Regions from separate parts of the Homo sapiens genome. Here regions 1 and 3 are each linked to region 2. Evidence: fine-mapped expression QTL. A gene starts in region 2. Each other region holds a variant in brackets. All regions are shown on one strand. Distances are between the middles of the regions.

Evidence for each region.
Region 1: its variant is fine-mapped to the expression of CARNS1 in whole blood (TOPMed, PIP above 0.99).
Region 3: its variant is fine-mapped to the expression of CARNS1 in whole blood (INTERVAL, PIP 0.91).

The regions. Positions count from the first base shown.
Region 1 is chr11:67,096,513-67,099,184 of GRCh38, forward strand. No RefSeq gene overlaps it. Among named protein-coding and RNA genes, the nearest start is that of KDM2A, 21 kb to the right of the region's middle. The variant C/A (reference allele first, on the strand shown) is at 1,160.
Region 2 is chr11:67,414,278-67,416,949 of GRCh38, forward strand. It overlaps CARNS1 (carnosine synthase 1), which reads left to right and starts at 1,401. Exons shown (of 10, transcript NM_001166222.2): 1 at 1,401-1,486; 2 at 1,899-1,925. The coding sequence starts at 1,923. RefSeq lists an enhancer at 2,139-2,672.
Region 3 is chr11:67,341,084-67,343,755 of GRCh38, forward strand. All of the region lies in intron 2 of LOC100130987 (a long non-coding RNA gene), which reads left to right. Among named protein-coding and RNA genes, the nearest start is that of POLD4, 11 kb to the right of the region's middle. The variant A/G (reference allele first, on the strand shown) is at 1,352.

The DNA of each region.
Region 1 (2,672 bases), 320 kb before region 2:
TGAGGCAGGAGAATCACTTGAACCCAGGAGGCTGAGTTTGCAGTAAGCGGAGATCATACCACTGCACTCCAGCCTGGGGTGACAGAGCGAGACTGTGTCAATAATAATAATAATAATAATAATAATAATAATAATAATAAATAAGGGGCATCTTTGGCTTTGGGTGGAGCCAGGCTGGTGGCTGCAGGGGCCCCATGGGAGCAGGGAGGCCGGGAGACACTGCTACCAGGGACCTCCACTCACCTGCCTCCTGCCCTCCCAACTCTGCCTTAGAGCCCAGCAGGCTGCCTCCCAGCAGGCTGGCTCTTGCAGTGGGATGTGGCACAGGAGGTTTTTGTTTCCAGCGGGCTTTCCTTCCCACATCTGCAAGTTCAAACTCAATGCCCATGATCCCTAGAAAGCCTTGGTAAAGGATGTCACTAAGTCTGACATTCTCTCAAACTGAACTTTTTTTTTTTTTCTGGTGCCCACCATACCCTACCCTAGTTCTCTCAGAGCATCCAAAGAACTCTCCAGAACTCTCCATTGCCCTCTGTAGCTCTGGATGTGGTGCCTACCACGGGCCGTTGGCAGTCCCGATTCTGTGTCTCTGACCAGGGGTTGCTCAGGCCACTGACTCTGCACACACATGGGGCAGTGAGTGTGCCAGGGAGCCAACAGCCTCTGGAAGCAGCCCACAACCAATGGCAGGTGGCAGCGGGTGGATAAGGAAAATGTGGAGTCCCCTTCTACACTGTCTCCCAGAGGTGTCCAGCCAGGCAGCACCAGCAGCCACTGCAGTGACTTGCTCGACGATGCACCCTTCGTTGGTTCTCTTCCCTCCCTTGTCTTACTTTCCACTCCTCTGTCAGTATTTCCTAGGACCATTTCCCAAATAAACTTCTTGCACTTGAATCCTTGCCTCAAGGTTTGCTTCTGGGTGAATTCGAAGTAAGGCACAGTGGCTCACACCTGTAATCCCAGCACTTTGGGAGGCTGAGGAGGATTGATCACCTGAGGTCATGAGTTCGAGACCAGCCTGGCCAACATGGCGAAACCTCGTGTCTACTGAAAATACAAACATTAGGCGGGCATGGTGGTGGGTGCCTGTAATCCCACCTACTTGGGAGGCTGAGACAGGGAGAATTGCTTGAACCTGGGAGTCAGAGGTTGCAGTGAG[C/A]AGAGATCACACCACTGCACTCCAGCCTGGGTGACAGAGTGAGACTGTCTCCAAAAAACAAAAACAAAACAAACAAAAAACCTACAAAAAAACAAAGACACACTCACTTGCTTACATTAAGAACAGGGTCTGGGCAGGGCGCAGGGGCTCATGCCTGTAATCCCAGCCTTTTGGAGTGTGTGTCTATGTGTTTATCTGTCAGGGTGAAGGTGGCTCTCAGAATTGATTGGGGGCAGCTGGGCGTGGTGGCTCATGCCTGTAATCTCAGCACTTTGGGAGGTCGAAGTGGGTGGATCACCTGAGATCAGGAGTTTGAGACCAGCCCGGCTGACATGGTGAAACCCTGTCTCTACTAAAAATACAAAAAATTTGCCAGGTATGGTGGCAGACGCCTGTAATCCCAGCTACTTGGGAGGCTGAGGCAGGAGAATCACTTGAACCCAGGAGGCAGAGGTTGAAGTGAGCCGAGGTCACGCCACTGCACTCCAGCCTGGGCAACAAGAGCAAAACGGGGCCGGGCACAGTGGCTCACGTCTGTAATCCCAGCACTTTGGGAGGCCAAGGCGGGTGGATCATGAGGTCAGGAAATCGAGACCATCCTGGCTAACACGGTGAAACCCCATCTCTACTAAAAATGCAAAAAATTAGCCGGGCCTGGTGGCGGGCGCCTGTAGTCCCAGCTACTTGGGAGGCTGAGGCAAGAGAATCGCTTGAACCCGGGAGTGGAGCTTGCAGTGAGCTGAGATCGCACCACTGCACTCTAGCCTGGGCAACAGAGCCAGACTCCGTCTCAAAAAAAAAAAAAAAATAGAGCAAAACGTCATCTCAATAACAAAAAAAAAAAAGGAAGAAGAAGAATTGATTGGGGGCTGGAGGACCAGGTTTGGGATGGGCAGGAAGCCAGATGGGAATGATGTCCATCTTTCTCCACTTCCTCAGGCCACCTGCTTGGGAGTCAGCAACCTAAAAAAGGAGGTCTGCTGGGTCAAACCGAATTTGACCCGGCTGCACCCGGTCAGGAGAGGGAAGATGTCTCTATTCTCCCCAGTACCACCCATGGGGCATCTCCAAGGGAGACTGGGTACCTGTAGGAACAACCTCACTGAATGGAGTTGGATAGGAACCACCAAGAAATGCAAATGTACCTCGGCCTTTATTATTCTTCTCCCAACCATAAGGCAAAGCTTAGACTACAAGTTTGCCACCACCCTCCACACCCCATGTCCTCTGCCACACTTCACACTGCTCCTTTTCTCTGACCCACTTGGATGCCTCTTCCCATTCTTCTGTCACTGTCTCACTCTAGTCGCTATCACCACTGCCCATTACCACCTCCTCCCTCTGGGTATCTGGCCTCCAGCAACTAACTGCCTGCCATGTGCCCAGTGCTGGCTGCCAAGCTGTTTCTCCCATCTTTAGTGGCTGTCAGTGATCAACCTTGTCCCATCCTGGGCTCTAAACTTGCCACCAGCTCTTTCTCCCCGGGGTATCCTCTACCTCTTCTTCCTCCAAC
Region 2 (2,672 bases):
GAGGCGGAGGTTGCAGTGAGCCAAGATTGTGCCACTGCACTCCAGCCTGGTGACAGAGTAAGACTCTGTCTTAAAAAAAAAAAAAAAAAAAAAAGGGATAGGGTCAAAAAAAAAAAAAAAAAAAAGAGAGAGAGATAGGGTCTCGGCTGGGTACAGTGGCTTACACCTGTATTCTCAGGACATTGGGAGGCCGAAGCAGGAGGAGCACCTGAGGTCAGGAGTTCAAGACAAGCCTGGCCAACACGGCGAAACCCTGTCTCTACTAAACACACAAAAATTAGCCAGGCGTGGTGGCGTGTGCCTGTAATCCCAGCCACTCAGGAGGCTGAGGCAGGAGAATCACTTGAACCTGGGAGGTAGAGGTTGCAGTGAGCTGAGATCACACCACTGCACTCCAGCCTGGGCCGACACACTGAAACTCTGTCTCAAAAAAAAAAAAAAAAAAAAAAAAAGCGGAGCGAGCGAGAGAGATAGGCTCTCACTGTATTGCCCAGGCTGGAGTGCAGTGGCACAACCAGGACTCACTGCAGTCTCGACCCCCGGGGCTCATGTGATCTTCCCACCTCAGCCTCCCAAGTAGCTGGGATTACAGGCCCACACCACCTCAACCAGCTAGTTTAAATTTTTTTTTTTTATAGAGACAGGGTCTTGCTATGTTGCCCAGGCTGGTCACAAACTCCTGGGTTCAAGCAATTCTCCTGCCTCAGGCTCCCAAAGTGCTGGGATTATAGGCAGCCACCGCACCAGGAGAGGCTGGATCTTATAGACATCCTGGCCCCTGTGTGCAAGTCCACTGGGTCCAGAAGTGAGGAGGGGGCTGCACAGATGTGTGGAGACCCTGGCCCAGGAGGGCCTCTCTGGGAGAACGTGCAATAGGGCAAAGCGCTGGCAGCTGGGACAGAAAGCTGCAGGGCTGGGACCTCCGGCCTCCATCCAAAGGTAGGGCTCAGGGCTGTGTGCTCCAGGCTGCTCTCCCGGGCACCCCACCCCTAAGGGCGGGCCCTAGTACCAGTCTCTGCCTGCTCCGGCTCTCCCCGCCCCTCCTTTCCATCTCTTCTCCATGGTGGGCCTCCCTCTTTCTTCATGGCAGCCCTACGTCTGTGACCCTCGACGACAGTCCCTGTCCATCTGTACCTGGCCCTCTGTCGGGACTTCCTCTGTGTCTCTGAAGACCCCCGTCTCTCCCTGCCTGCTCCGTGCCCTCCTCCTGCTGGGTCCGTGTCCCGCCACACGCCCCCAGGTCTGGGACGTTTTCGTGGCTGACGGGCGGGGGGGGGGGGGGGCGCGTCCCCGGCGGGTCCCTATCGGTCCCTGTCGGTCCGTCCGCCCCGCGCCGCCCCCGCTGGGCACTGGGCATGCCCCAGGCGTTTCTATATAAAGCGGCGCCGCTTGGGCCGGGCGCTGTGCCACTGCCACCGCCGCCGCCGCTGCATCCCGCCCGGTCCGAGTCCGCCCGCCACGCCCGCCGAGCCGCTGCCGCCGCCAGGTACCCCAGCTCCGGCCCCGCCCCGGGGAGAGCCAGGGAGGGGGGCGGCCGGGGCAGGAGTCGCGGGGACGAGGACCCCGGGCGCCCGCTCCCCGCGGCGGGACCCTCGACGCTACGCCCCCCACCCCCGGGACCCGGTGCCCCCAACTCCCCCCCGCGCTGGAGGGGCAGAGCCAAGCCCGGACCCCAGGGCAGGAAGGACCTGTGAGCCGCACTGGGGCAGGAGCCACTCGGTCTGGGCAGCAGAAATCCCTCCCTACCTTCGGGGTGGGGGTGGGGCTGCCTTGGCCTCTCTCTGCAGGGACAGGTGTCGGCCACCTCTCCACTCCCAAAGTCTAGGGGCTGGAAGGCCAGGCAGGGACTTGGCTGCCCTGACTCCTTCGTCTCTCTGTCCCTCTGTCTCTGCCATCAGTCTCTCAGCCACTCCACCCACGAGATGGTGAGTCTTCTGTGGTCCCTCCCCCACAAGGCCCAAGTCCCTGGGCAGAGAGTGGGCCCAGAGGACAGCAGGCAGCACCTAGGACCTAAGCCTGGGAGTTGCCCCCTGCAGACAGCTTAGACCCACGACCAGCTCCCCCACCCCCACCCTGCGGCTGCATCCTGGGAGGTGGGCACTCTTAGTGCCCTGTGACATTCATTCATTCCATGGCCCCTCAGGGAGCTCACCTTCTAGGAGACGGCACAGAGGCTCTGGCCCTGGCAAACTGGGATTCGAGCCCAGGCATGAGGCCCAGTCCTCTGCCGTCTGGGCCACAGCACACCATCTCCCAACAACCAAGAGATTCTCTTCGTCCCAGCCTCATCAGCCCCCAGGGGATGGGAGAGGGCAGGCACCAGGCAACAAGGTCCAAAGAGACCTCACGACTTGCTCAAGGTGGCCGAGCCTGTCCCCTGGAGGACAGACTCAGCTGCCAGGCCTGTCCAGGCCTGGGGACTGCAAAGAACAAGAATTCCATTCACACGAAGCCTCCCAGCAGCCCCATATTGGGGGGGCGCCAGCCTCAGAGAGGGGAGGGACGTTAGGTTTCATCCAAAGAAAGCATTTCCGTGACTCAAAATATCTGCAGGGGGGATACTGTCTAGCCTCCTAATGTTTAGCCCAGGGCTGGGCACACAGTAGGGCTTCAAGACCTACGTGGGGATGACAGTGGAATCACATTTAGGTGTCAGCACACTCCATGCCGGG
Region 3 (2,672 bases), 73 kb before region 2:
CCGAGGATGGTGGATCACAAGGTCAGGATTTCAAGACCAGCCTGGCCAACATGGTGAAACCCTGTCTCTACTAAAAATACAAAAATTAGCTGGGCATGGTGGCGGGCACCTGTAATCCTGGCTACTCAGAAGGATGAGGCAGAGAATTGCTTGAACCCAGGAGGCAGAGGTTGCAGTGAGCCACGATTGCGCTACTGCACTCCAGCCTGGGCAACAGAGCAAGACTCTGTCTCCAAAAATAAAATAAAATAAAATAAAATAAAATAAAATAAAATGAAATTGTTAAGTCCCTAGTAAGACTAAGAAAATAGAGAAAATATAAATCCCCAATTATCAGGAATGAAACAGTGAAATTAAAAATAGATCCTAAACCTAAATGTAAAAGCTAAAACAATGAAATATCTAGAAAAAAATAGAAAATATTTGTTACTTTGGGGTAGGTAAACATTTCTTAGGACATAAAAAGCAGTAACAAAAAAAATGATAAATTGGATTTCATCAAAATTTAAAACTTTGGGCCGGGTGTGGTGACTGATGCCTGTAATCCTAGCACTTTGGGAGGCCGACACAGGTGGATTATGCGAGGTCAGGAGTTTGAGACCAGCCTGGCCAACATGGTGAAATCCTGTCTCTACTAAAAATACAAAAATTAGCTGGGCATGGTGGCACATGCCTGTAATCCCAGCTACGTGGGAGGCTGAGGTAGGAGAATCGCCTAAACCCAGGAGGCGGAGGTTCCAGGTGAGCCAAGATCACGCCATTGCACTCCAGCCTAGGCAACAAGAGCAAAACTCCATCACACACACAGACACACACGCACACACACACACATTTTAAAACTTTCGTTCTTCTAAAGATACTATTATGAAAAAAATTCTGGCCGGGTGCAGTGGCTCACGCCTATGATCCCAGCACGTTGGGAGGCCGAGGAAGGCAGGTGGATTGCTTGAGGTCAAGAATTTTGAGACCAGCCTGGCCAACGTGGTGAAACCCCATCTCTACTAAAAATACAAAAATTAGCCAGGTGTGGTGGCACGCGCCTGAAATCCCAGCTACTCGGGAGGCTGAGGCAGGAGAATCCCTTGAACCTGGGAGGCAGAGGTTGCAGTGATCCAAGATCGCCCCACTGCACTCCAGCTAGGGTGACAAAGCGAGACTCTGTCTCAAAAAAAAAAAAAATTCCAAAAATTTTATCTGGAACCACTAAAGACCCCAAATAGCCAAAGCAATCCTAAGCAAAAATAACAAAGCTGGAGGCATCATACTACCTGAGTTCAAAATATACTACAAAGCTATAGTAACCAAAACAGCATGGTACAGTCATAAAAACATACACATAGACCAGTGGAAC[A/G]GTATAGATAACCCAGAAATAAATTCACACAACTGATTTTCAGTAAAGGTGCCAAGAATATACATTGGGGAAAAGATGGTCTCTTCAATAAGTGGTGCTGGGAAAACTGGATATCCACATTCAGAAGAATGACAAAAATTAACTCAAAATGGATTAAAGACTTAAATATAAGACCTCAAACTATAAAACTACTAGAAGAAAACACAGGAGAAATGCTTCCTGACATTGACCTAGGCAAGGATTTTTGAGATAGGACCTCAAAAGCACAGGCAACCAAAGCAAAAGTAGACCAATGGGATTACATCAAACAAAAAGCTTCTGCACAGCAAAGAAAACAATAGAGCATGGCCAGACACAGCAGCTCACACCTCCAGTACCAGCTACTCTGGAGGCTGAGGTGGGAGGATTGCTTAAGCCCAAAAGTTTGAGGCTGCAGTAAACTTTGATTGTGCCATTGCACTCCAGCCTGGGTGACAGAGCAATACTCCATCTCAAAAAAATAAAATGGTAGAACCACTTCGGAAAACAGACTGGCAGTTTACTCTAAAGTCAAATATATATATATGATATATAATGTAGCAATATGATTCTTTGGCATATAGCCAAGAAAAAATGAAAACCTGCCCACACAAAGACTTGTACATGAATGTTTATAACAGCTCCATCCATCAGAGTCTAAAACTGGAAACAACCCAAATGTTCATCAGCTGATAAATGGGATAAATACATTTTAGTATATTCACACAATGGATTTTTTTTTTTTTTTTTTTTTTTGAGACGGAGTCTTGCTCTGTCATCCAGGCTAGAGTGTGGTGGCACGATCTCGGCTCACTGCAACCTCTGCCTCAAAGGTTCAAGCAATTTTCCTGCCTCAGCCTCCTGAGTAGCTGGAATTACAAGCGCGCGTCACCACACCTGGTTAATTTTTTTTGTATTTTTAGTAGAGACGGGGTTTCCCCATGGTGGTCAGGCTGGTCTTGAACTCCTGACCTCATGATCTGCCCGCCTTGGCTTCCCAAAGTGCTGGGATTACAGGTGTGAGCCACTGTGCCCGGCCAATACACAATGGAATATTATTCAGCAACAAAAGTGAATGAACTTGGCCAGGCATGGTGGCTCATGCCAGTAATCCCAGCACTTTGGGAGGCTGAGGCAGGAAGATTGCTTGAGTCCAGGAGTTCAAGACCATCCTGGGCAACATAACGAGAATTAATTAATTTTTTTTTTTTCCACATAGAGATGGTGTTTCACTCTGTTGCCCCAGACTGGTCTCAAATTCTCTTGAGCTTAAGCAATCCTCCTGCCTTGGCCTCCCAACATG